Linked DNA regions of Homo sapiens. The protein of the gene in region 4 interacts with the protein of the main gene of each other region in a pairwise test. Each region holds a gene or a part of one and is shown on either strand. Other genes may lie near its edges.

The links.
Region 1: the proteins of OTUD7B (region 4) and CCDC50 interact in binary tests that used the Homo sapiens proteins (3 or more experiments, as listed by UniProt).
Region 2: the proteins of OTUD7B (region 4) and A2M interact in binary tests that used the Homo sapiens proteins (3 or more experiments, as listed by UniProt).
Region 3: the proteins of OTUD7B (region 4) and KIF1B interact in binary tests that used the Homo sapiens proteins (3 or more experiments, as listed by UniProt).

Annotation. Positions count from the first base shown.
Region 1 is NC_000003.12:191,353,373-191,360,400, reverse strand, and holds part of CCDC50 (coiled-coil domain-containing protein 50 long isoform), read right to left. Parts: intron 3,314-7,028; coding exon 3,251-3,313; intron 2,404-3,250; coding exon 2,277-2,403; intron 1-2,276.
Region 2 is NC_000012.12:9,070,896-9,077,923, reverse strand, and holds part of A2M (alpha-2-macroglobulin isoform a precursor), read left to right. Parts: intron 1-66; coding exon 67-223; intron 224-503; coding exon 504-578; intron 579-987; coding exon 988-1,168; intron 1,169-3,140; coding exon 3,141-3,364; intron 3,365-5,052; coding exon 5,053-5,271; intron 5,272-5,437; coding exon 5,438-5,565; intron 5,566-7,028. UniProt on the Homo sapiens protein: Is able to inhibit all four classes of proteinases by a unique 'trapping' mechanism. This protein has a peptide stretch, called the 'bait region' which contains specific cleavage sites for different proteinases.
Region 3 is NC_000001.11:10,290,566-10,297,593, forward strand, and holds part of KIF1B (kinesin-like protein KIF1B), read left to right. Parts: intron 1-516; coding exon 517-596; intron 597-1,481; coding exon 1,482-1,557; intron 1,558-4,520; coding exon 4,521-4,600; intron 4,601-5,094; coding exon 5,095-5,201; intron 5,202-6,016; coding exon 6,017-6,100; intron 6,101-6,331; coding exon 6,332-6,512; intron 6,513-6,608; coding exon 6,609-6,681; intron 6,682-7,028. UniProt on the Homo sapiens protein: Has a plus-end-directed microtubule motor activity and functions as a motor for transport of vesicles and organelles along microtubules.
Region 4 is NC_000001.11:149,965,712-149,972,739, forward strand, and holds part of OTUD7B (OTU domain-containing protein 7B), read right to left. Parts: intron 5,541-7,028; coding exon 5,352-5,540; intron 1,811-5,351; coding exon 1,583-1,810; intron 168-1,582; coding exon 66-167; intron 1-65. UniProt on the Homo sapiens protein: Negative regulator of the non-canonical NF-kappa-B pathway that acts by mediating deubiquitination of TRAF3, an inhibitor of the NF-kappa-B pathway, thereby acting as a negative regulator of B-cell responses.

The DNA.
Region 1 (7,028 bases), on a different chromosome or scaffold from region 4:
GTGGGAAGAAAGTAGAAGCACCGTAGAGAAGGCAAACCCAAATGAAGTGTTAAAGGTCACAAGTGACACAGAAGATGTATCTCCTGGTACAGAAAATAAATAAGTGAAGCTTCATCTGAGTTTAATGATTTCAAACCATATTTCCAAGAAGTACCATCTCTGGTTCAGTCAGCTAATTATACAGACTCCTGGGAAAGCGAAACTGAGAAAGCAGTAGTAAACAAGCGGTAATCCTGACTTACGGCAGCCCGGGTATCCAGACTGAATAAAAGGTTCCAGTTCAATGAAAACTGCAGCATTTCATCCTTCCCAAGATGTACAGCTATTAAAATTGCCAGGGAGTGAACTGAAAGACTTCCCTTCTAGCTTACTTATTTCATCCAGGAACAATTTCAAAACCTTGAAGTCTCAGGCAGAAATATAATACCCGGTTCTTCTCTCCTTTAGGACCTATAAAATATCACTCTCTACTCCTGATTTATATTTGAGTGGTTTGTCTTGATAATTTCTGAAAAAGCTCATTATACTGTTATTAACCTAATTCAGGATTTTAAACATCTGCATCAACCTCAGAACTGGCCTTTCTAACAGAGAATTGTGAATAATGTAAAGGGCAATGAATTTAGAACTCTAGAACATTCTAGCTTTGGTTCTCACCTTAACCTGTGACACTGAGCCTCATAACATCTCAAATATCTCTCCTCCTCTTTACATCTCCATTACCATGACCTTCAATTTAGGCCTCATCATCTCCTTCCTCTCTGTCACCACTGTCCTCATTCAAGCCTCACCATCTCTTAATTTGACCATTGCTCAACAGCTGCCTTCAAATCTTGCCCACTCCAAGCCTTTACCCACCTAGTCTACAGAATAGATCCCAAAATGAAAATCTGAAACTACTTCAAAGGTTCTCCATTCCTTATAATTTAAAATCTACAAAACCTGAAATCTTTAACATAACTTATCGTGACCCTTTTGATCCAGCTTTTGACTACTTTCCTGGCCTCACTTCCTACTTCTGCCTGTAAATACACTCTCCACTCCAGCAACACTGAACTTCTTGCAGCTAACGTGAGATTGATTCCAAGTCCTCTTACCTCCTGCCCTTATGCATGCTGCTCCTTCTGGCTAGAATGGTTTTCCCCATCACTATAAACTTCTAATTAACCTTCAAGTTTCAGATTAAACACATCGTCTTGTGAAGCTTTTCCCAGTCTCTTCTCTCTAAATAGGCCTGAAATTTACATTTCAATTCTCTGTGACTCATGCACGTATCTCTAGATACACAATGCTCAAGGTGTTTTCCTGAGGCCCTTAAAGGCAACAGCTGTCTTATTCATATCTCTGGTCTCCTTTCATGGTGCCAGATTTAGCATGAATCAATAAAAGTGTTTATTTACAAAATAAGGGAAGCTTAACAAAATGATTAATAAAGTCCTCTCTACAAATAATAAACAGAAAGACAAACCCTTCCTATAAGTTAGCAAAAATGACTGGCTTTCCTTTTTACCTGAATATGACACTGAAGTAAATTAAGGGGTTCCTTCCATTTTTCCTTTACCCCTTCCTCCTCAACACAGTATCTGTGGTTAAATCTACCCACATTAAAGATTTAGGATGTAAGAGCCACTCTCAAAGAAGAAATGTATCCTGGGAGCTTTATAACACTGAAACAGAATAAAAGTCACTGTGCCAAAAGAAACCTGAGAAATAATCATTTCCGTTTATCTGTGTGTTAAAGGAGGCTACTAGAGAGAACTTTTGTCAGACACTGAAGTTATGAAAAAAACTGAGTCTACACTTCAGAGCTTTTCAGAACATTCTGCTATGTACTGAAAAGCAAGGAAAGTAAGAGCGGCAAACACAGCTAGAACATAGTAAAGGAACCAATACAACCCATAAAGTTATTTGATGTCCACTATTTCACTGGATCCCCCAAAGAAACTATGAGGCAGAGGGGACAGAGATTATTATCCGCATGTTATGGGTAAGGAAAATAAATTCAGAGAAGTTGACTAACTGGCCCAAGGTCATAACAGCTAAAAAATGTTAAAATTCACACCATCATCAACATGTCCTTAAACCTGGTCAAGTGCTCCAACAAAAACAAAACATTTTCAAATCAAAAAAACTGTTAGACATCCAGGGTAAGATTTGTAATCTAACAGTAGAAGGAATCAGAGGAACAGAAGTAGTCTCCTTCTCCCCTGCCCTGGTTGCTAGCTCCACAGAGAAAACCAGTCTTGCATCACCCCTCCCACCTCCCAAATCCTCACAGGTCTTTGTAGCGCTTCTGGAGCTGGGCCTGCGCTTTCAGATCTTCCTCTTGGAGCTGCTTAGCCACCTGGAGATCATGCTGGACCAAACGGTTCCGCTGAACGTTCGATGCCAAATGATGCTCAACTGGAACAAAAAGATTGAGGACAGGAATGAATAATGTCTTGGTTTGTTAGTAATAAATGCCATAATAATCTTAAGAGCTTTACCATAACAACAGCTTTGCATCCATCACTTCATTTTATTGTCTCAACAACAATATATAATAAAGAGCAAGGAATTATTATCCCCACTTTTCCATTAAGTAAAAAGAGGATCAAAAAGATTAAATAATTTGCCTTTGGTCACACGGCAACAAAGTGGCAGTGCCAGGACATCTACACAAATATTCTAAAGCCAGGGCCAATGCTCTTTCTACTACTACATGTTGTCACTCTATTTATTAACCGCATTTTTCAAAATGTCAATTTTATATTGATATGTGAATTCACAAATCATATATTCACAAGTATGTACTTTAATATAACATGCATAGCTTAGATTTACTTTTCATCACCACATGGAAAAAAAGATTCAGAAAAATTCACAATGTGATCTCATTTATACCACAGTTGCCTGGGAAAACTGTTCAAGTCCCTATCCTAGGAGCAAGAATAGATTCCTTCTACGCACCCCAGATAAATCTACAACCATTGTGTCCCTCCTACAACAAGAGGCTAGGAAAAAGGTTCAAACCTCTCTTTTTCCTCCTACAGACGCAGCAGTCTACTAATTCCTGGCAGCCTATCTTACTTAACATGCCCGAAACTTCACTGATCACCCAGGCATCATTTGCCTAAAGAAATCCTTCAGGATGTATGGATGGTGAAGCCAAGTGACTGTGCTCTCTCCCCACCTAAGCCCTAAGAAACCAGCCTCAAGCTACCACTAAAAAAAGAAAACTGAAGGAGCATAAATGAGAGGTATTACTCACTCTCTTGTTCCTGCAGGCTGTGAGCCAGGGTGTGGTCCTCCAGGACAGCAAAATCTCGGCATACTAGAGTAGATGGAGGAAAAACAGACAGGAAGGCTCATTAGTAATACTTTAACATACAAAGGAAAGGATTTTTTTTTTTTACTTTAAAAAAAATCAATTCTAATATTTCAGAATGACACACTTTATAATTCTCAATGCATAAAATAGTGACTAGTTAAGTATGCAGTCTTTAGTCACAAAAATCTATAGTGCCTGCTTAGTGCCAAGCACAGGGTGTCACAAAATACTGGTTAGCCTTGGCCCCTGGCCTGAGGTGAGAACATTTACAGAATCAGATTCCAGAGGTCTAGAAATTCCAATCCACTTCTATAAATGGAGGGTTAAGTGCTGCTGAAATAACAGACGTATCAGTCATGCTTTGCATATTGCTACTGAGAGAGAACTGAGTTACTGCATAATTAGAGGTGTTAAAAGAAATCTAATCTATGCTTCCCTGTGGTTCAGACGATCCTCTCCCAGCAATTTATGTCTACCCTGGCGTCTTTCAAGAAAAAATATATTTTCACTAGTCCCTCAGGTAGGGGCAGAGCTCTACTTTAAAAATTCTTAATTTCTTAAACATTCTTCAGTGGGTCAATCCCCAGGGACATGAGTTAGAACTAGGTCTCTAGGTCCCTCTAAACCTTGGGCTGCCCCAAAATAATCTACAAACCAAAAGAAAATGGGAACCCTGAAGGAAACCAGGAATCTGCCCCAACTCTGCCTCCACCTGAAGAGCCAGGCAAGGGCATTTCCTGACCTGTCTTCTCAGAAGCAAAATGGGAAGAAATGGTCTTGAAGAAATGGTTTGGGGTAAACAATGGTATCCATGTTTACCCCAAGCTGCAATTTAAACTCCTGCTTCGTAAACATACAAACAGACAAAACATGAAGGATTCATCATGTAAAGTGCTGTTTTAAGGACGTGTAGTTTAGGTGATATGTTCTCACTCTATTCCAAGCATGTAATTCATGTTAAAAAAAGGAAATTCCCCAAAGCCTCAGATTACTGCAATTGAGTAGGACTCATGAAACATTCCCCAGGGCTTAGGAAAAGTGATAGATTTCTTTCCGAAGCTTTGGATTTGCCTATGAGGACACTTAACTGAAACAGAATGAAAAACGTTCCTTTGCCGTTCTTTGCACTTATGTATGTTCACATATACACTCAACATTAGTTGTGTCCTTCACGACTGAGGGATAATGCCACAAAAAGGGAGGGAGATCTTGGGGAGGTCAAGATTATTTTGAAATGGTTTTATAATGGAGGAATAATTCTTGCCCAAGAACTATATTCAACTGGATACAACCTGCTTAATCCTCGCTCAAACATAACAGCAAAACCAGTAATTCGAACAGAAAGCCCTGTTCTTTTTCATCAGCTTTTCATATTCTCAACCGATTCTAATATCTTGAAGCCCAGGTCCTAGTTACCTTATGTTTCACAGAATAAAAGTAGTTTCAAGATGAGCTAGATAACACCCTCATTTAATAAGTGAGGAAACTGAAAGCCAGAAGGAAGAAGGGGTTTTCTAAGGCTGTACAGAGTTCACTGGTGACAGGGCTTGGGGGTCAACATCTAAGCCAGCAAGAGCTCAAGAGCTCCTTCCCCTTCCCTGACACAATGATGGCCCTCCTTCCCTCCAGGTAAATCATGGTAAGAATAGACAGAAAGAAAATATTCTACATTAACCATCGCATATTCTCTAAAACACTTCAATTAATTAATATCTAATTTTTAAATGGGTAAGACATACACGGACTTAATTTACAAAAATTAATGAATTAGCTAAAATAAATATAATCAAATCTTGTGTAAAGAATGTTATTTTAATGTATTGACCTATCATTTAAAACACCTTTATTATACTGGAAAAGCTTGTGCTTATATATTAAAAGTCAGTCTTAATTTTAGATTAATTATGATTAGATCAAATTTAAGATTACTCTTAATGATTTTCAAATTATGGGTGGCAATCTATTATTAGGTCAAAAAATCAATTTACTAAGCCTGAGAAAGGCATTTTAAAAGTCAATAGTCTAGAGAATAACAGAGGACAGTTGGCTCTCATAGCCCTGAGTTTTGGATTCATGGATTAAATCAACCACAAATAAAAAATATTCAGGAAAAAAAAATGTGGCTGTACTGAATACATACAGACATTTTTTCTTATCATTGTTTCCTAAATGAACGGTATTAGGTAGTATAAGTAATCTACAGACAATGTGAAGTATACAGTAGAATATGTATGAATTATATGCAAATACTACCCCATTTTATATTAGGGGCTGAAGTATCCATAGATTTTTAGTATCCATGTGAGGTCTTGGAACCACCTCTACACCCCACCCCACAAATACGAAGGGACTAGTATAAATCACACACAGTACAGGAAACTAGTTTGGGGAAACTTTTCCCGTATTATATATAAACATCACAGAAATATATACATACAGAGATGATAGGTACTAGGTCAAAATGTAAAACACACATCATTCTATAGATTACAAAAAGCTTAAAAGCCACTTCAATTTATGTTATTAGGTCAGAACGTTACGCCAAAAATATGTTTTCTATGTTTCTAATACCATGCTAACTAAAATTAAAAATTATGAAATTATTACATTTTTCCATGTGGAGAATCATGTGAAGAACTACAATAATTTTAAAAATATTTCTTAACTTCAGTCAGCAGAACATTAAACATTAAAATATAGTTTGTAGATAGATATACCTATGGTTAAAAAAAATTTTTTTAATAATATGGCACTGACACAAACTTAACTCCAAACAGTAGTTCTCTCTCCAGAGAGACGAAGAGGGGCATGAGTGCCTTAGCTGCATGAGCCATTCTGCTTCAAAAGCAAAAAGAGAAAAGATACACAATAAGGCAAAATATTAACATTTGATGTGGGTGGTAGGTTCATGGGTTTTTCTATTTCCTGTGCTTTTTAAATGTCTTACATATTACATTTTAAGTTCTATAATTAAATTCACTTATTTCATGTTGTCAACAGCACATATTGCTAAACCATGAACATGAAGATATGGTTTGACACATTATAACAGGTGTGAGAAATTTCCGAATTGCTGATTACCTTGATGACTCCTCATAATGATTTCTTACTATCTCAACAGCAAGACTGAAGTATATTCTATTATTGCAATTTGTCCCTGAATCTGCAGAAGCTGAACTAGTACCCAAAAGATATGAGGAGGGCCTGAGCTAGAAGGGGATCTGGAAGATTTTCAATGATTATGAGGAAGTACATGAACACATACACACAGAGAGTTGTATTGTCAAATACACTGACTTTGCCCTTCGGAGGTTACTAGGAGTTTCCAAACATATAATCTCATTTATACTGAAATATTACTTGCCCAATATATAATTTCTTCTGAACCCACTCTAATTTTTTTCAAGATTTGCCTCTGTATTCCCTCCATCAGTATTCTAGCACAACCTGGAAAACAATCACATATTCAGTCAACTTTGTAAATCAGTAACCAGATTGAGAATTACTGAAACTATTTCACAGCCAGGCCACGCTCAGAGCATGAAGAGAACTTTTCTCCTTTTCTAACCTCCTCTGCCTTCGATGTAAACAGCATAAACAGCCTACTGAGGATAAACGGCATACACTCATCTTCCCACCTTTCTCTGTGGGCACATTTAAGGTGAACCACCTTTCACCCTCCCATTTCTCAAACTTTTTGCCTCCCATGTTCACCTTC
Region 2 (7,028 bases), on a different chromosome or scaffold from region 4:
TGCTGTGAAGTGGTTATAAAACCATTTTGACAACATAAACATCATGATTGCTTCCTCCCTGGTCAGGCTCACAGCCTTTGTTCTGAAGACTTTTGCCCAAGCTCGAGCCTACATCTTCATCGATGAAGCACACATTACCCAAGCCCTCATATGGCTCTCCCAGAGGCAGAAGGACAATGGCTGTTTCAGGAGCTCTGGGTCACTGCTCAACAATGCCATAAAGGTGAATCATTCTGGAGCTAGTTTTGATTTGTCCATTATGATATCTGCAAGGATGAGGATAGGAAGTGATAATGTGAAAAATTCTAAGGGAAAGCCTCAGAGGAAAATAAAACCTGGATGGCACCAAAAAAGAGGGGATAGAACAAAAGTTGATTGTGATACTTTGCCCTATAGGGATGGATATGGGTAAGGATGAATTCCATGACACAGCAGAATAGAAAGAACTAATCAATAGCATTCTCAGAAGTTGAATTATTCAGATCTCTCTCTCGTATTCACAGGGAGGAGTAGAAGATGAAGTGACCCTCTCCGCCTATATCACCATCGCCCTTCTGGAGATTCCTCTCACAGTCACTGTAGGTACCACCCCATTCCTCTGCTGAAGGAGAGTTCTGGATGCAATGAAACTGCTGACCTGCTGTCTGAAATACTATCCTATTAAAAGCAAAGCATCAGCTTTCTTTCTATGCAATGCCAGTGCTTCCCAGATCTACAGAGAATTTGGTCAGCCCATTAAGAAAGGTTTAAATTTTCCCAGTAATTCCCCTAGGCTATTTACCACCACCACTCAAAAAAGAATCTTAAAGATGTATCTTTTGAATGTGAGAATAACAGATAAAAATAATATTATATCTATTGATAAGAATGAGGAATCGTTGGAAAAATGCGTTTGAAAAACTTCTGTGCTGTGATCCGTGTATTTGCCTGGGAATGCTAATATGCCTGTTTACATAGCTTAGTTCCCTTCTTGTTCTGCCTTCACAGCACCCTGTTGTCCGCAATGCCCTGTTTTGCCTGGAGTCAGCCTGGAAGACAGCACAAGAAGGGGACCATGGCAGCCATGTATATACCAAAGCACTGCTGGCCTATGCTTTTGCCCTGGCAGGTAACCAGGACAAGAGGAAGGAAGTACTCAAGTCACTTAATGAGGAAGCTGTGAAGAAAGGTGAGAGCACACCTGAGATCCTTCTCCTGGCCCATCCTCTGTATCAAGAACTGCATGGCAAAAATCCCTCACTCCTACCTCCTGTGATCCCTGTCTCCTCTCTTCTTTTCTATATATCATATATATTTTGTCCATATTGCATCTTATAAAATCTAGGATTTCTTAATCAAATCAGAAATCAGAAGACAAGAGGCCGTGCAGATGCTTCTCAATTACGATGGGGTTATATCCTGACAAACTCATTGTAAAGTCTAAAAAATCTTAAGTGGGACCATTGTAAGTCAGGGACCATCTCTATAGTATGCTGGTAAGAAGAGCATTCTCTGGAGACTAGCTCCAAAATGTGCTACCTATGTGAGCTTGGGAAAGTCATTAACTTCCTTGTGTTTCAGTTCCTTCATCAGTAAAATGGGGATAATAATAGTATTTACCTCACAGAGCTGTTGTAATAAATGAATTGGTACACGTAAAACACTTAGTAGAGTACATGTCACATAGCAAATCCTATAAAAGTACTAGTTATTACAATTAACATATCAGTTCTCAATATATGCCCAACCCTTACCTGGTACATTATATAACCTTAAACATAAGAAAATAATCATGGAAGTAACTCCTTGAATGAATTCTGGTATTTTAAGCCCATTTCATAAGACCAATAATGTTGACCAATCTACTCATATTCACACAGTACTTCTACATATACCATGGTCTATATGAGCGGTTGAAGAAATAGAAAATAAAATGCAAATCACAAGATGTCCATTAAAACAGTCTACCTTTTTCCTTTGACAGCCATTAATTCTTCTTAAAATGTATTGAGAAATATTTTATAATAGATATACAAAAGGGCATAAGCTATAACTAGAAAACACTGTACAACTCTCTCATAGATTAAGAAATAGAAAATTACCGACATGGGAAAAATAAATCCCTTGTGTATCACTACCACCTCCAGAGGCAATCATTATCCTGAATTTGTCGTTACAATTCCATGGATTTCCTTATATTTTTGCTGCATATGTATCCCTAACTAATATTTAGAATCTTCACATGTGTTTCATCTTGAGAGAAACAAGATTTTTATTTCTCTCTTATTCAAGAAACAAGAGAAACATTTTTGAATATTTCAGCAGCTTAGTTTTTTGTTTGTCTGCTTTTTATTTTCTAAGTTCAACACTATGTTGATGAAGACCCCTATACAAGTATGTGCAGAGTCAGCTCATTAATTTTCACTGCTGCATAATATATTACAGTCTATAAATTAGTCATAATTTACACATCGAGTTTCTCCTCATGGATTTTTTTTATGTTTTGCTATTAAAAAAAATGCTGCAATGAATACTCATGTGCCTGTTTTCTTGTGCATCTGTGTTTCTCCAAATTATGCTTTGAGAAGCATAATGACTGATTAGTGGGCTAAGCACATCTTCCCCATTGCTGAATATTGCCAAAGAGCAGTTGGCTTCCCACAGCAGTGTATATTGGTTCCCATTGTTTCACATCCATGTCAGCCTTTGGTATTTCAAGGATTACTGTATTTTTTTTTTCAATTTAATGAGTAGAAACTCTACTATTTCATGTGATCTGTGATCCTCACAAGAAACTGATAAAGACACACTTTATAGGAAATGTAACAAACTCCAGCTATAGTCTAATATAACATCATAAATAGGAAATAGCCAGACTCAATGAGACAACTGCTGTGCCATTTCTTTCTCCCACCAACCCGACTATAGCAACGATTTGAAAACATAGATAGGCATAGGCTTCTGACTCCAGCATCAATATCTGCCTTAGCTGGGCTAAAACACACCAAATTCAGATTTACATGAAGGGAAAAGCATCTACATACAGTACAGGGGATTATAATGGGCATGCAATTCTCATTTCAGCACTGGCTTGGGTACTTTCACCTTGAATTAAATATAAATATGTAGGCACTTATAAATATCTTTTTCTCATCTTTAAGACAACTCTGTCCATTGGGAGCGCCCTCAGAAACCCAAGGCACCAGTGGGGCATTTTTACGAACCCCAGGCTCCCTCTGCTGAGGTGGAGATGACATCCTATGTGCTCCTCGCTTATCTCACGGCCCAGCCAGCCCCAACCTCGGAGGACCTGACCTCTGCAACCAACATCGTGAAGTGGATCACGAAGCAGCAGAATGCCCAGGGCGGTTTCTCCTCCACCCAGGTTGGTGATTTGCCAAAACCTTTTATTTCACCTTCAGGTAGCAAAAGATTTGAATGAAAAAGAAACAAACACATCCAAGAAGAAAAAAATACAGATGACAGTAACTTGAAATGAGGAAAAGTTTTCAGTATCCAAGGATAATGGAAATAAAAGCAAATCAAAGTCAAAGAGGGCCAAAAGGAAATGCTCAGAATCCCGGCACCCCATCGCTGTGTTATTATCCATCTCCTATTTCCCATAACAACACTGCCTTCCTCAAGCAGCAGTGGAGCACCAGCAGAATGAAGGAGATGTCTCCTGCCATTCTCCTGAAAGCTCTAGGGTCTCTTTCAAACTGTTCAAAGGAACTCTACTCAAAATCCAACAACCTCTCCTCGCAAATCTCTCCATTCTTAGGTCCCCTTTAATAGGCTTTTCTCAAAACTACACATTTTGTGCTTCCCCTATTCACCTTTTTTTTTTTTTTTTTTTTAAGACAGAGTCTTGCTCTGTCACCTAGGCTGGAATGCAGTGGTGCAATCTCGGCTCACTGCAACCTCCATCTCCCAGGTTCAAGCGATTCTAGTGCCTCAGCCTCCCAAGTATCTAGGATTACAGTCATGTGCAATCATGCCTGGCTAATTTTTGTATTTTTAGTAGAGACGAGGTTTTGCCATGTTGCCCAGGCTGATCTCGAAGTCCTGAGCTCAGGCAATCCATCCGCCTTGGCCTCACAAAGTGCTAGGATTATAGGTGTGAGCCACTGCGTCCAGCCCCCTATTCACCTCTTAATACACAAACATTTATTCATCAGGAGCATAAAGAACTGTCTTTATTCATCCAACCTCCTAAATCTAGCTATATAACCATGTATCTGAACAATTCATTGATATGTACACAGCAGAAAGTTTTATCTTCAGAGAATTCGGATGTTTGCTTATATACCCTAAAACGGAAAAAATGTGACAAAATGGCATTCCATCCTATTTCCATTGTATTAATCTTTTATCATATGAATGAAAAAAACTAAGTAATTTTGTTAAAGGTTATCATTCATTTATTAGAAACATATTATTTGAAGGAGGCCAAGCAGGTTTAATGTTGTTGAGGATACATACCAGCAGACATTCACTGGGAACAGGAAATCATCCAATAAAAAGGGAAAGCCAAATAAAAATGTCATTAAATCCAGAAGATAATTATAATACTCATCTTTTATTTCTTTTGGAGAAACTGAAGCATGACTCTGCTCATGGCTGCAAAGAACCTTGGGTTCTCTCCAGGACACTGACCTCAGCAACTGAGCAAAGTTTAATATGGGAGAGAGCCAGACTGAACTTTGCTTGAGTGGTGGCAGATATGAGCATAGTTGTCAAGAAAGACATGTTAGCAAATAGCTGATGCCAATAACTGATTGCCATTCACATGTTTTCCACATTCCATGTCCCACATATACTTACAGAGAGAAAAGGATCAATTTTCTGATAAATAAAATAAACATGTAGGGCATACAGTCCAAGGTAGATATGTGAATGTTATGGTTCTTCAACTATCTAAAGATTATAATCAATCTTGAAATTACAGCTCCTATATTTAAGTAGTGAGGGAAGTAGGAAATCAAAGTCCCTCACATGGGTCTTTGAAAAATATCTCAGCCCTCAAAGCCTTATAATGCCCAATGGGTTCTCTCACTCATCTGTCTCTAACAGGACACAGTGGTGGCTCTCCATGCTCTGTCCAAATATGGAGCAGCCACATTTACCAGGACTGGGAAGGCTGCACAGGTGACTATCCAGTCTTCAGGGACATTTTCCAGCAAATTCCAAGTGGACAACAACAACCGCCTGTTACTGCAGCAGGTCTCATTGCCAGAGCTGCCTGGGGAATACAGCATGAAAGTGACAGGAGAAGGATGTGTCTACCTCCAGGTGAGACTCTTGGGCAGGTGAGGACAGGACAGATGAGGACAGCAGCTGTTCTCTCTGAGAAGTCCTAACTCAGAAAACAATGGGACAGATCAGAGAAAGGGTTAGGGACGTGGACAGGAATTCTGGGAAAGGGCAAAAAACTGATTTTGTCTTTGATGTTCTATAGACATCCTTGAAATACAATATTCTCCCAGAAAAGGAAGAGTTCCCCTTTGCTTTAGGAGTGCAGACTCTGCCTCAAACTTGTGATGAACCCAAAGCCCACACCAGCTTCCAAATCTCCCTAAGTGTCAGGTAAGACCTTCTGACTCTATCACCTAATCCTAAGAATAACCACCAGTCTTCTTTCGGGAACTCCTCTTTAAGTAAAGCAGTGCAACAGTAGATATTTGCACTATTCACAAAAAATGCAATGTATTCTCTTAAGTTGATATAATTTCTCAATGATGGGGTTTACATTGTCCATCCAGGATCTACTATTGTGCAACCTCATTGTTTAAAGGGTAATAATTTCCCTCAATAACAACTAAGTAAATATTACCCATTGCCTCTGACCTGAATTCCTTGTTATGTAATGAAATCCTATATTATTCTTGCTTTATTGAAGATAGAGATGAAGAATTATTGAAAAGTTTGAATAGAAGGAAGTAGTGACTCCTTAGTTAGAATTCCTACTGGCAATAATAAATCTCAGGTTATATATGATATAATTAATTTGGGGGGAAGATACACTTATATGCATCAATATTTAAATAGCTGCAGATCTGATAAAAAACTCTCTCTCCACAAACATATTATTACTTGGTTGGAGATACTATTCAGGAAAAAAGTTAGGACAAAATACATGTAACAAATAACTGGCACACATCAAAAAGAATGAGATCATGACCTTTGCAGGAACATGGATGGAGATGGAGGTCATTATCCTTGGCAAACTAGCACAGGAATGGAAAACCAAACACTGCATGTTCTCATTTGTAAGTGGGAGCTAAATGATGAGAACATATGGACACAAAAAGGAGAACAACAGACACCAGAGCCTACTTGAGGGTTAAGGATGGGAGGAGGGAGAAGATCAGAAAAAAACAACAATTCAGTGCAAAATTTAGTACCCAAGTGATAAAGTAATCTGTACACCAAACCCCCATGACACGAGTTTACCTATATAACAAACCTGCATGTGTACGCCTGAACCTAAAAGTTAAGTATATATATATATATTTTTTTCATTTAATTTGGTGTATATATATGCCAAAAAATAAATTAAGCAGTCCAAATTTCGGATGCAAACTCTCGGGGACAAGACGCTAGGTGTTTCTAAGTGTTTTGTTGAAAGCCAGTGTTTAAGTAAACATTATAAATTATTGTTGTTTTTGTAAATAATGTAGACTGAAATTTATTATTCATAATATACATCATTTTGTCAGCTGAAAGAAAATAAAAGTAAACAAATAAATAAAATAACTGGCATAGATTAGAGGTCACAAACAGCCTGTGCATCACTTGTAGAGCTTTCTTAAAATGCAGATCCTCAGCCGGGCGTGGTGGCTCACGCCTGTAATCTCAGCACTTTGGGAGGCCAAGGCGGGCAGATTACCTTAGGTCGGGAGTTCAAGACCAGCCTGACCAACATGGAGAAACCCCGTCTGTACTAAAAATACAAAATTAGTCGGACGTGGTGGTGCATGCCTGTAATCCCAGCTACTCGGGAGGCTGAGGCAGGAGAATCACTTGAACCCAGGAGGCGGAGGTTGCGG
Region 3 (7,028 bases), about 140 Mb from region 4:
CTGCCTCCCGGGTTCATGCCATTCTCCTTCCTCAGCCTCCTGAGTAGCTGGGATTACAGGCGCCTGCCACCATGCCCACGTGGATCACGAGGTCAAGAGCTTGAGACCATCCTGGCCAACATGGTGAAACCCCGTCTCTACTAAAAATACAAAAATTAACTGGGCGTGGTGGCACGTGCCTGTAGTCCCAGCTGCTCGGGAGGCTGAGGCAGGAGAATCACTTGATCCCCAGAGGTGAGGTTGCAGTGATCTGAGATCGCGCCACTGCAGCCTGGTGACAAAGGAAGACTCCGTCTCAAAAAAAAAAAAGACTTGGAGGATTTATTTGTTTGGGGTTGATTTAGTTTTAGGTCTAATCTTTATGATTCTTATCTTATGTATTAATAAAAGAAAAATCTCTTTACATTTAATTCTGGCCTGTATCCTCAAAGGGCATGATTTGCTTCTTGCTTTTCTAGCATGGTATGTTAAATTATAAGACTCTTTGCCTCTTTAACTGTGCGCTTCCTTCCTTAGGAATCAGAGAAGATCATTGCTGAGTTGAATGAAACTTGGGAAGAGAAGCTTCGTAAAACAGAGGCCATCAGAATGGAGAGGTCAGGAGGTTAAAATCTGGAAATGTTTCTAAGTTTTCTAGGGGATGTGGATTACTTTATCGTAAGAAAAGATAAAATATAAATTAAAATCAAAGAGTCTGCCCTTCTAAAACACAAAACGAAACCAAAAAAATGGACAGGGATTTATGGCCAGTTGAATTTATGCTTTGAAATGACATCTACATATTTAAATATTATCTAGGGAGTCACAGGTTTATTAGTTACCATATTACATGTTGCTAGGGATTCATAAAAATGGAACATATTGGCCAGGCGCGGTGGCTCACGCCTGTAATGCCAGCACTTTGGGAGGCTGAGGTGGGCAGATCACGAGGTCGGGAGATCGAGACCATCCTGGCTAGCATGGTGAAACCCCATCTCTACTAAAAATACAAAACAAATTAGCCGGGCATGGTGGTGGGCACCTGTAGTCCCAGCTACTCGGGAGGCTGAGGCAGGAGAATGGCGTGAACCTGGGAGGCAGAGTTTGCAGTGAGCCGAGATGGTGCCACTGCACTGCAGCCTGGGTGACAGCAAGACTCTGTCTCAAAAAAAAAAAAAAGGAATAGCCTCTTCTTTTCTTTTTTATATTAATATGCATATCATTTATGAATTATTGACTATCCCAAAGTCAGTTGAGACAAAGTTCTTATCTCAGTGAATATAACTTTAACAAAGCAAGATTTCATTGATTTTGAATGTGATGTTGCTTTTAGAAATAACTTCTCATTAATGATGAGATAAGCACATTATTTTATGTTTGCATTATTGGCTATAAACATGGCCAGTTGTTTTTGCTTTGCAGGCTTTATTTTCCAATTCATATTAGACTGATTTAATTGACATTTTGGTATTAGTGTTCTGATATACCTGTTTTTTTCCTAGAGAGGCTTTGTTGGCTGAGATGGGAGTTGCCATTCGGGAAGATGGAGGAACCCTAGGGGTTTTCTCACCTAAAAAGGTAGGAAACAATGCTGTGAAACCTAATCAGACAGAGACACTTTTTGTTTGTCTTTGTTACTGGGGCACTTCATGTCTTTCAGGACCTACTCTCCCCCTTATTATCTTGATACTTGCCTTAATTTCAGATATTTCTGATTTCATCTTAGAGCATGGTCTTATAGTACAAAGGCAGCCTATTTCTAAAATGCCTATCTTGTTTACTGTTTACAAAAGAAAAAACCTAAGGCAATATGTAACCTTTGGCCATGATTCAGTTTGTTTAGTCATCTTTATTTGTTGCTTTCTCTTAAATTCCCAGCCTAACCTAGCGTACTTTCAGTTTTGGCTACTCTTTCATGTAGATTTTCCCACAGAAGTCGTCTACCCTGCTTTATAACTTTTTGGAACCAATTTCAGCTGTACAGGTTTGTGGAGAATAATACTGCTTCCATTTGCTTCTGCAATTTGTATTATAGACAGCCATTGTACTAAGTAAAGCAATTCCTGTCCCTATCCTTCTAGACTCCTCTGCTTCCTTCTTCATTTTTTAAAAAGTGTCTCCAATAGTTACCTTCCTTTTTACATAATCATAGTTATGAAGTAGTTACGTAGCTTTTAGCTAATTAGAGTAGTAAGGGTTTTTTTGTTTTTTTCTTAAACTAAGTTGCAACGTCTTGTTGGATACTAGAAAATGACTATCAAATGGTTATTTTGTGTGCTTATGTATCAGAAAATAGGAGAACATATATCGATGTACAAAGCATGTATTTTATGCCACTAGTAAATTGTCCTTTATTTCAAGTGACCTCACATTGGCTATTGGAGACTTAAACATCTTTATTCATAGGTTCTGTTGATGATCTCTCTAAGTTAGGATACAAGGGGTGGTGAGTTTTGAATTGGTACTTTTATGTGATATGAAATATTCCTGTGGTTTTCGCTACAATTCTTCTGGTCAGGTTTTTCTATCCTGGCCACATAACTTTTTTTTTTTTTTCTTCCCAAATTCCAATGTGTTATTTTCAACAGAAAAGACTGATGTAAAGACATTTTAGATGCATATTGTAGAATAGAACAGTTAAGTATTTTATATGTTTATATTATGAAAGGTTAGTGGTTTTCACAGTTTTAATAGTTTTTCCTTCAGTAAGACATGTATTCATTCAGATATGTTACTTAGGATTATATAGATTTTAGCAGTTACAGTTTTGGTGGAATTTAATTGTGCCTATGCATATGTCTAATAAAGGTATTTTATAACATCTTACAGTATTAAAGACTGTGAGGAAATTTTTTTTTTTTTTTTTTTTTGAGACAGAGTCTCACTCTGTCGCCAGGCTGGACTGCAGTGGTGTGATCTTGGCTCACTGCAACCTCCGCCTCCCGGGTTCAAGTGATTCTCCTGCCTCAGCCTCCCAAGTAGCTGGACTGCAGGCACATGCCACCACGCCCAGCTAAGTTTTGTATTTTTAGTAGAGACGGTTTCACCATGTTGGCCAAGGGTGGTCTTGATCTCTTGACTTTGTGATCCACCCACTTCAGCCTCTCGAAGTGCTGGGATTACAGGCATGAGCCACTGTGCCTGGCTGGAAAATTTTTATTATAACAACTAGTGAAAATATTATGCATTTAACATAAATCATAAATAACTTGAACAAATGTTGAGATGTACACTGCATGGAATTCCAAAGTGAGATCTCTGCTTCCAAAGCTTTTTCTTACTTTAATTTTACCCATCTTGCTTTAGCTTTCTAGACTTCTTCATGAAAGGAAGGGATATACCAGTGACCACATCCAAACTCAGTCTTAGGACCTGTTTCTGAGATTCCATTTTTCAAATTATGATGTGCTTTAAAGAATGCTACTCACAAAGGGCTTTGACTTTCTCAAACCAGTCAAGTTCTTCAACTACAAAGGGGGATGCTAGTTGAGAAGATGTGGAGGTTTTTCAGATTTCTCTTTAACCATCTTTTATAGTTCCTTTTCCTACCCCCTCATCTGACTCTTCTTTCATTCTTCCACATTTGCTGGCACTCTCTTGAGTAGATTTTGGCCTCAAGACCATGTGACTTATTTTTGGATTCCAGTGGGTTATTTTCACTAAAGAAGGTTGGTTTTTTAAAAAGATTTTAGAAATATTAGAGTTAGATGAAGAGGATTGTTAGAAGATGTTTATCTTATCGAATATCAGTAATTTTACTTTTTTCTTTAAGGTAAAGACTAATAAATTAAAATCTTTTAAGGTAAAGACAAATTAATAACTGGGATCAGAAGAACTGATAAAAATTATAGTGGGAAGTGGTGGGGGGGTATGGGGACATTTTAATAAAAGTAAATATTTCTTGAGATTTTTACCCAGGCATTTACAAAAATTATAATTATTCCGTTCAGAGAATTGGCCTGTCATTTTTTCCTTGTGCTTTGACCTTATCAAAAATTAGGTCTTGTTTTTTTATCCCAGAACTCATGTTTTAAAATGGAATGCCAGGCACAGTGGCTCACTCCTATAGTCCCAACACTTTGGGAGGCCAAGGAGGGTGGGTCAGTTGAGGTCAGTAGTTCGAGACCAGCCTGGCCAACATGGTGAAACCCTGCCTCCACTAAAAATAGAAAAATTAGCCAGGCGTGGTGGCGAACACCTGTAATCCCAGCTACTTGAGAGGCTGAGGCAGGAGAATCACTTGAACCTGGAAGGCAGAGGTTGCAGTGAGTCAAAATCATGCCGCTGTACTCTAGACAGAGCGAGACTCTGTCTCAAATTAATTAATTAATTAAAATAAAATAGAATGCACTTGGTTCCGTTTGGTGAGGCCTGAAGAGAGTGTTTTCTCTTTATTATGGAACCGCAACTAGGGATAAAAAGAAATCCCTCTCTAGGCTCTGTGGAGAGTTGGAGAAGCCTGGCCTCTTGTAGGCCCCTGTTGTTACCACAGCTCTCTCATGGTGCCCTGCTCCAAATTGATCATCTGTAATCTTTTTCAGACCCCACATCTTGTTAACCTCAATGAAGACCCACTAATGTCTGAGTGCCTACTTTATTACATCAAAGATGGAATTACAAGGTATATTTATTTCCTGTTTTGGTCACTTCGTGTGTTTTCCCCCTCTTAGATAATTGAATAACTAAAGGGAAGGGGTTGAAAAAATTAACGTAATGATTTGCTGTATTTTTTGTCTGAAATAGTTACAAACTATGCTCTCTTTCCAAATAATGTGTTTTTGCCACTGGAGCCAGTTACTATGTAGTTTTTCTCTGAAGACCCTAAATAATTTTTTTTTCCTTTAACAAATATACATTCCTTAGGGATTTTATTTGACTCATGTCTTTATAATACTGTATGAGTTACATTGGTATATCAGTGCTCCTTGTTTCTTATTCTGATGTAGAGAGGTTGATCATATGTGAGGATAGAATTCATAGTTGAAAGCTTCTGATGCAACAAGGCAATACCTTTTTTGTACGTACCAAAGGATATTCTTTGGAATAAAGAGGTTCATTGTTTGTAGTGCTTTCTGTGTCTGAATTTCCCTGGGAAACACTTTCTCTTGTGTTCAGGGTTGGCCAAGCAGATGCTGAGCGGCGCCAGGACATAGTGCTGAGCGGGGCTCACATTAAAGAAGAGCATTGTATCTTCCGGAGTGAGAGAAGCAACAGCGGGGAAGGTGAGCATTCCTGGCTGGAGCTTCAGCAACAACATTTTCATTTTATATTATGAGAAATCCTTAAGACTTTGTATTCTCTGTCTATCAGTAGTACTTTCTTATACAATCTAATTCTGAAAAATGGAGAGACCTGGGCTGCTTATGAATGCAGAGATGGACAAGGCTGCTTTACATGAAAATAGCTTGGACAAAAGAAGCCCTTTTTTACTGCCAAGAACTGAGAAGGACATAGGCAATTAGGCTTGGTCTGGAATGTTAATTATTTAATAGAAAAGTAAGAAAATAGCAGATATCCTGGGTAATAGGAGATTTGAAGGACATTAAGTCAACCCAGCAGAATTTATTTTTATCTAAAAGGGAAGAAAAAGTCAGTCTTGATTTTTGCCTGGGTTATTAACAAAACAACAATTTAATGGTTTTTTTCTGTTATATAAGTCACTCATTCCCTTATCAAAATATTAGCTTCTCAGTCTTTAGTTTCTGGTTATTACCTATATCTCATCCTTACAATTTCTGATGGTTCTGAGTTTTATTGACTGAACCGTCAGAGATCCCTGAAACTAATATTTCCTATCATCTTCTTAGGTTTATCAAATAGAGTTAAATGTTCTTGTGTTAGCCATGGCCACAGATAGCCTCTTCTATTGGGGCTAGTTCTGGTACCCCAAAATGAACTACTGTATAGACAACTTCAGCCACTTGATTGATTGCAGGGATTTATTCTACTTACTGCAAATCCTGATAAGCAACTGCTTTCCATTATTTGATTCCAATAGTTTGTAATGATAACATTAGTTTGTGTTTGTTCCTCTTAGTTATCGTGACCTTAGAGCCCTGTGAGCGCTCAGAAACCTACGTAAATGGCAAGAGGGTGTCCCAGCCTGTTCAGCTGCGCTCAGGTGAGACTGGGAGAGGTTTGCCATCTTCAGCAATGTGCACATGGCTTCTGTGACAACTCTAATTTTTGGCTGTTTAAAGGCTGAAGTAATAGTCAGCATTAGGATTTTTGTTCTTGTAAAAACAACAGCTCTGAAAGCTGTCTTTTCACATTAGGGAGGGGTGAGGTTGTTAAATAGATACTATATATTAAAAAAATTATTTCTTAACCCTATTTTTCTGTTTTGTGCTAGGAAACCGTATCATCATGGGTAAAAACCATGTTTTCCGCTTTAACCACCCGGAACAAGCACGAGCTGAGCGAGAGAAGACTCCTTCTGCTGAGACCCCCTCTGAGCCTGTGGACTGGACATTTGCCCAGAGGGAGCTTCTGGAAAAACAAGGAATTGATATGAAACAAGAGATGGAGAAAAGGTAATGCACAGTTACGCAGCCCATATGACTGTTTCTTCTTTTAAACATGTAATACTAATAGCATTCTTGAATTTTTTTTTTTTTTTTTACTTCTAGGCTACAGGAAATGGAGATCTTATACAAAAAGGAGAAGGAAGAAGCAGATCTTCTTTTGGAGCAGCAGAGACTGGTAGGAGTCCTGAATCTGCTAAACTGTTGGGAAAAGGGCAGCTTGTTCCCATACTTTCCCTGTTCCACAGAGCAGTACTCACCCAAATTGCTTCTGTCTCAATGATACCAAGCACTATTCTTTAATTTCCTTAATGGAGAATGAACTTAAATCTCCCGGTAGCCTTAGCCTGAAAAAATAGTCCACAGAGGTACTCTTTTGGGCTTTTTATGTCTTAAAGCCAAATCTTAACTTCTGTTACAACCAAATACTTTTTAAGGAAATAGAGCTTTTCTGGTAGCCTTTGCCTCTTGATAGTGGTTTTGGAATTTGCTTCAGTGGTGGTTCTTTAAATGATAATTACTCTG
Region 4 (7,028 bases):
CACATGAGATTTGACTCAACTGCTTCCTTTCTGCAGGTGAATGGAGGACTGCTTTCAAGACTCACCAAGGGAGGCTGCATGCAGGAGGCAGTTCCCATCTCCAGTAGTTGCCAAAGGAAGCAGCCTCTGAGAGGTGGGATCCACACTCACCCACCAGTTCAAACGCCCTGTAGAAACAAGATAGTGGAGGAAAAGGAGATTATCCATGAAGCCCTTCCACCTTCCTATTTCTGAAACAGACTCCAAAGCAGCCTCCTCTAGGAGGCCTACCCAGAATAAAACCATCACTTGATTACTCTTTATATCTTCCTCACTTATATCTAGTCAGTCAGAATCTTGTGAGCACAATTGGTTAGATCAGTGAGTAGGGTCAATTTTGTCCCAAAGGGACACTGGCAATGACTGAAGATATGTTTGCATGTCACAACTGGTAGCAGGATGCTACTGGTATCTAATGGGTAGAGGCCAGGGATGCTGCTAACCATGATATAATGCACAAGGCAGCTTGCAAAACAAAGAATTATCTAGACCAAAATGTCAATAGTGCCAAGGTTGAGAAACCCTGGGTTAAATGACGAGGCCAAGGACATAAGTTGAAACTGTTGACTGCTTGGACTGGCCCTGATTCCTTCCCTCCACTCAGGAGACCAGTATGTATCACAGCAACAAAGCTCAGCAAAAATCCATCATGAACAAAACAAAAACAACTCAAAGCATGTATTTAAGGTGTTTTATGAGTATCATCTGCATATATGACAGCATGTCATCACGTGTGGGGTGTGACTTTAAAGGAATGAGCAATAAGATAAAGTACATAAAATATCCAAGAAAATAAGTCTTAATTCCATGCAGTCATCCCACAATTGCCAACCCATTATTTACATGAGGAAAATATCTTATGAGTGATGCATAAGTTTTCTTGAACTACTGTGGAGCATAGTTTTTGAACTACTGAATGAAAAACTGGCTTATAAACTCCCCAGACCAGATAATTTACCAACTTAAAAAAAAATTACAAATAGATGTATATGGTTAATATAGAAGGTTACAAAATGAAAAATAAAAGCTTCCTTTCCATGCCCTCATCTAACTCCAGTTCTTATCCCACACAAGCATTTTAATGCCTGATTAGCTTTTCCAAAATTCCCAGCTGCCTCACCCTATGATAAGAATTAATTTTAACAATAATTTAAGATAAACACAATTACAAACGTAAATACATTTGGGGGGATAGGTTCACTACTGTGCATCATCTACAGCATTGGTCATTTCTGTTCACAAGGGTGTTCCAGGGCCAATTATAATTAGTTGTATTTTTTTCATGTATTGATTTCGAGGTATTGATTCCTAGGCCTTTTCACATGTGTATCTGGTTTCTCTTCCATCAACCAGGAAATTCCCAGAGTAAAGTATCTAATCTGTATCCATTCTTTGACAGCACAAGTTTATCCCACTGACTCCTGACTTTGCAATCAGATAACACACTTAAACTGGAAGCTAGCGATCAAGTCCAGCCCCTCCACAAGGCTGCCTGTAGGTGGAGAGTAGAGGGAAGAGTGTGGGAGAGGAAGCACTCACTGACCTGCCTGTTCCAAGGCAACCAGCATGGACTGCTCAATGAGGTCTCTCTCTATGAAGCTGCGGAAGTCTTCATTGTATACAGTGAGATCTGGAAGCTGGAAGGCACAGATGGGCATTTCCAGGGGGTGCTCATTGCTCCCCCCACCCCCACCATTGGAGGAGACATGGGACCGGGCCAGGGAAACAATGCTGGAGCTGGCGTGGGAGATGCCCCTAGACAGGCGTTTTTCTGCAATGAGAAATGGAGTCACCTTAGAACATACACAGCCCACTTGGAGAACTCTACACTGATGTGGTGATAGTTACCTCTCAACAGGGTTTACAGTCAGAGAAAAACTAAGTCTAACTGACTACTGAATTTCAGAACCCTTTTTCTGAAGCCAAATACAATTGGAGAAATAGAGACAGTATTTTTGTAGGCACTCACATTAGCACCAAATTATTCATTCCTCTTTCTGCCCTTGTTTGGAATTTGCCTGATCTTCCCCTCCCTCTGACTGTCTTCCTCCACTTCCATATTTCCCAGTGTGATAGGGACCCATTCATTTAGCAATTTGGTCATTGTTTGGTGGGAGGAGAGGGAATAAGGGAAGTGAGGTTTCACTAGACTAGAGTTAGTCAAATAACCTCTCTGGTAATTCTCAGGGTCTTGGGAAATACCTTTTCTAAAGGGTATTTTCATTCTAGAAAGATTATAAAAGAAATCCATTATAGAAAAGAAAATCCTTTGGGAGGCCAAGGCAGGTGGATCACCTGAGGTCAGGTGTTCAAGAGCAGCCTGACCAACGTGGTGAAACACTGTCTCTACTAAAAATACAAAAATTAGCCGGGCATGGTGGTGTGCCCCTATAATCCCAGCTACTCGGGAGGCTGAGGTGGGAGAATTGCTTGAACCTGGGAGGCGGAGGCTGCAGTGAGCCAAGATTGTGCCACTGCACTCCTGCCTGACAACAGAGCAAGACCCCGTTTCAAAAAAAAAAAAAAAAGACAATCAACAACAAATCTTACACATTTGGGAACTTTCTTCCTACATCAATAACATTAATTTATATTGCTTACTACAACTACTCTCAATACCCATATTTATCAGAAATTTATAGGGACAGTCAATTCTTAACAGTCTATAGAGAACAATAATGTAGATAGTACCCCACATCATTTCATTTGTTTTGAATACATGACACTTGTAATTCCCAAGCAGATATTCCACTGTGATTATAATTTGCTCAATGTAGTATTACAGTTCATTTGTATGGCTTCAATTATGTAATGATTTAATGATGATCCAAAGGGGGCAAAATTTCAAAAGCATGTTGGGCTGTTCTTAATACAACATTTGCCAGATATGATACACAAAATAAACTGAGTTGTCTAAAGTTATCTTATAGTGATGTTATTTTTCAAATATTTTTTAGTTTTGTTTGTTTTTGTTCTTTGAGACAGAGTCTCGCTCTGTCGCTCAGGCTGGAGTGCAGTGCTGCAGTCTCGGCTCACTGCAACCTCTGCCTCCCAGGTTCAAGGGATTCTCCTGCCTCAGCCTTCTGAGTAGCTAGGATTACAGGCACACGCCACCACACCCAGCTAATTTTTTTTTTTATTTTAGCAGAGACGGGGTTTCTCCACATTGGTCAGGCTGTTCTCCTCAAACTCCTGGCCTCAGGTGATCTGCCAGCCTTGGCCTCCCAAAGTGCTGGGATTACAGGCGTGAGCCACCACACCCACCTTAAAAATATTTTTTAGGTATTCGTAGGCTGAGCATGGTGGCTCACACCTGTAATCCCAAAACTTTGGGAAGCCAAGGTAGAAGGATCACTTGAGCCCAGGAATTCGAGACCACCTGGGCAACAGAGTGAGACCTAATTTCTACAAAGAATCAAAAATTTAGCTAGGTGAGGTGGTGCGTGCCCATGCTCCCAGCTACTTGGGAGGCTGAGGCAGTAGGATCCCTTGAGCCTAGGAGGTTTAGGCTGTAGTGAGCTGTGTTCCACCAGCCTCACTCCAGCCTTGGAGGACAGAGCAAGACCCTGCCTCAAAAACAGTACCATGTGCCTATGGTAAAAAATCAATATACCATCAAAAGGTATAAAATGATTTCACAAGGAAGTCTTCTTATCATTCAAAATTCCTGATCCCTTCCCCAGAGGCAAACTTTTGTATCCTTCTAGAAATTTTTATGCATACAGAAGCATATACAGGTTTTGGCCGGGCACGATGGCTCACGCCTGTAATCCCAACACTTTGGGAGGCCGAGGCAGGTGGATCACAAGGTCAGGAGATCGACACCATCCTGGCTAATACGGTGAAACCCCATCTCCACTAAAAATGCATGTACAGCTTTTAAAATCATCTTTTAAAACGCAAATGAGAGTATACTACATACATTGCATTGTGTCTTACCTTTTTGAAAAAAATTATATATTTTTTTATATGGAGTCTCACTCCGTCACCCAGGCTGGAGAGCAGTGGTGCAATCTAAGAGGTTTACTACAACCTCTGCCTCCTGGGCTTAAGCAAGTCTCCTGCCTCAGCCTCCCAAGTAGCTGGGATTACAGGTGTGCACCACCATGCCCAGCTAATTTTTGTAATTTTAGCAGAGACAGGGTTTCACCATGTAGGCCAGGCTGGTCTCGAACTCCTGACCTCAGGTGATCCACCAGCCTTGGTCTCCAAAAGTGCTGGGATTACAGGTGTGAGCCATCATGCCCAGCCCCCTTCTGAATAGATTTTAGAAATTTTTCCAAAACAGTACACCAAGTTCTGCCTAATTCTTTCTAATGATTGCAGAGTATTCCACAACATGGATGATTACAATTTACTTAACCATTCCTTTACTAATGGACATTAAATGTTTTCAGGGCCAGGTGCAGTGGCTCACACCTGTAATCCCAGCACTTTGGGGGGCCAAGTCAGATGGATTGCCTCAAGAAAAAAAAAAAGTTTCAAGATTTAATTATTGTAAAATAATGCTGCTGTGAATATCCTTATATGCTGCATTTATGTATTTCTTTTTTTAATTTTTATTCATTTATTTATTTTTTTTTTTGTAGACAGAGTCTCACTGTGTCACCCAGGCTGGAGTGCAGTGGTGTAATCTCAGTTCACTGCAACCTCCACCTCCCAAGTTCAAGCAATTCTCCTGCCTCAGCCTCCCAAGTAGCTGGGATTATAGGCATGTACCACCACGCCCAGCTAATGTTTGTATTTTTAATAGAGATGGGGTTTTACCATGTTGGCCAGACTGGTCTCGAACTCCTGACCTCAGGTGATCCACCCACCTCGACCTCCCAAAGTGCTGGGATTACAGGTGTGAGCCACTGCACCTGGCCTTATGTATTTATTTAGAGAATACTTATGTGCACATACACATATATGATAAATTGCTAGATATGAAATTGCTAAGTCAGAGTACATATGCATTTTAATTTTGATAGATATTGGCAAATATTAACAAATTACCCCCCAAAGAGGTAATGACTCTTTCAATTCTACCTTTATGTGAACTTTATATCAACAAGGAGATTGTTATCCTCCTTCCTCTATTTCTTTCACAGTATCTGAGGAAGGCTTTTATACAGGATAACACTAAAGATGCAGAGACGCAGTGAGGGACTGCAGCACCTGGGCAGACTGAGGCCACCTCAGTCTGGGTTTGGCTGGGAGAAGGGGAAGAAATGGAATCACCTCCAATGGATCACTAGACTTTATGACTCCATTTAACAATCCCCTCCCTTCCTACTCCATATACGGAAACATTCCAGTCACCCCAGTACCTTGAACGATGTCATCCTGCCGCTGGAGGATGGGTCGGGGAGGGCGAGTAGGCTCTCTGTCAGAAAACCCTTTTTCAGGGGTCCTGGAGCCACCACTCCCCTCACTAAAGGATGGGGGTAGGTTTCCAGCATGGACTTGACGTAGCTGTTCAAAATCACTGAGGGCGGCATTCACATCCCAATTCTTTCCTGTCAGGAGACAAAGCAAAAAGCAAACTGTGCAACCATAGTATAGAGACACAAAGATCACACTAACTATCCTATCAAAACCAGTATGCAAATACGCATGCACATAATCATTCTTCTTTTCCTTACCCTGCTTTAATTTTCTTTATAACACTTCAATCTAACTTATCAAATGTCTTTACTTACTTATTTGTTGTCTATTTCCTAAGTAAGTGCCATGAAAATAGAAACTTTGTCCCTCTGAACTAAAAGAGCCCTTAAAGATCTAGTAACCGAAAATTAAAACTTCCTTTTACAGATAAAGTCTAGAGAAGTAAATTATTTGCCCAAAGTCACAGCTAGTTCACACCAGACCCAGCAGGACTCAGGCCCAGGTCTCCTAATTCTGAGATCCAAAGAGGTTCTTAGCCTACATGTACTCTAGTGTGTCCTAAACCACTAAACCTGCATATAAGATCATGGGCTTGTGCATTTTCTAGTGAAAGAGTTCATAGCTGTCATCAGCTTTTCAAAGGAAACAGTGTTTCCCCCAAATTTAAGAATCACCATTCTACTAAAGAAATGACCTTAAATGATAAGATTTGTCATAATGGATTTTTCTGATGCTTTCTCCAGCTAAATTATTCAACAAATATGCATTGTATAATTGCTCACATTTCTTTCTGTTGTATTCCATCTACTACCACCTTAATTCAATTCCTATCACCTACTGTCCTACCTCCGATCCATTCCAAAGAATCCCATGAGATTAATCTTTCTAAAGCACAGTTGTGATCATTTTAGTTCCATAATCGAGATTTTTAATGGCTTACCACTGCCTACAGAATAAAACTCAGGCTCTTTGGCTTGATACTCAAGGCTTTGTATGTCCTGGCCTACTTTTCTGGCCTCTTCTCTGTGCTTCAATTTCCTTATCCGTGAAAATGCAGATGATAGTAGCAGTGCCTACCTCATAGAGCTGTTATGAAGATTAGATGAGTTGAAAGCACTTAGAATAGTGGTTGGTTTTACTCACAATTTTACGTCTAAATCATTACTGATGATTTTACTTCTAAATCATTACATTAGCCAATTGTTCTGACTCCCTTTGCTCACTCTGTTCCAGTCATCACTGACCTTGCTGTTCCTAGAACATGCTAAGTCCACTCTCACTCTAGGGCCTTTCCACTGACTATTCCCTCTACCTAGAAGGCTCTTTCCCCAATATATCCACACAGACAACTCCTCATTAGCTTTAGGTATTTGCTTAAACATCACATTGTTAGTAAGGCCTACCCTGACTTAAAAATCACAACCCACTTCATCATTCCCTTTACTCTTCTCCATAGCACTTAACAGTTTATAATATACTTTATAATTTACTTAGTTATCACATTTGTTGTTTATTGACCCTCTCTCCTGCTAGAACATGAAGGCAGGTATTTTTGTTTGTTTTGTTTTGTTGGAGCATCTAGAACAGTACCTGGCACACAGTAGTCACTCAATAAATAT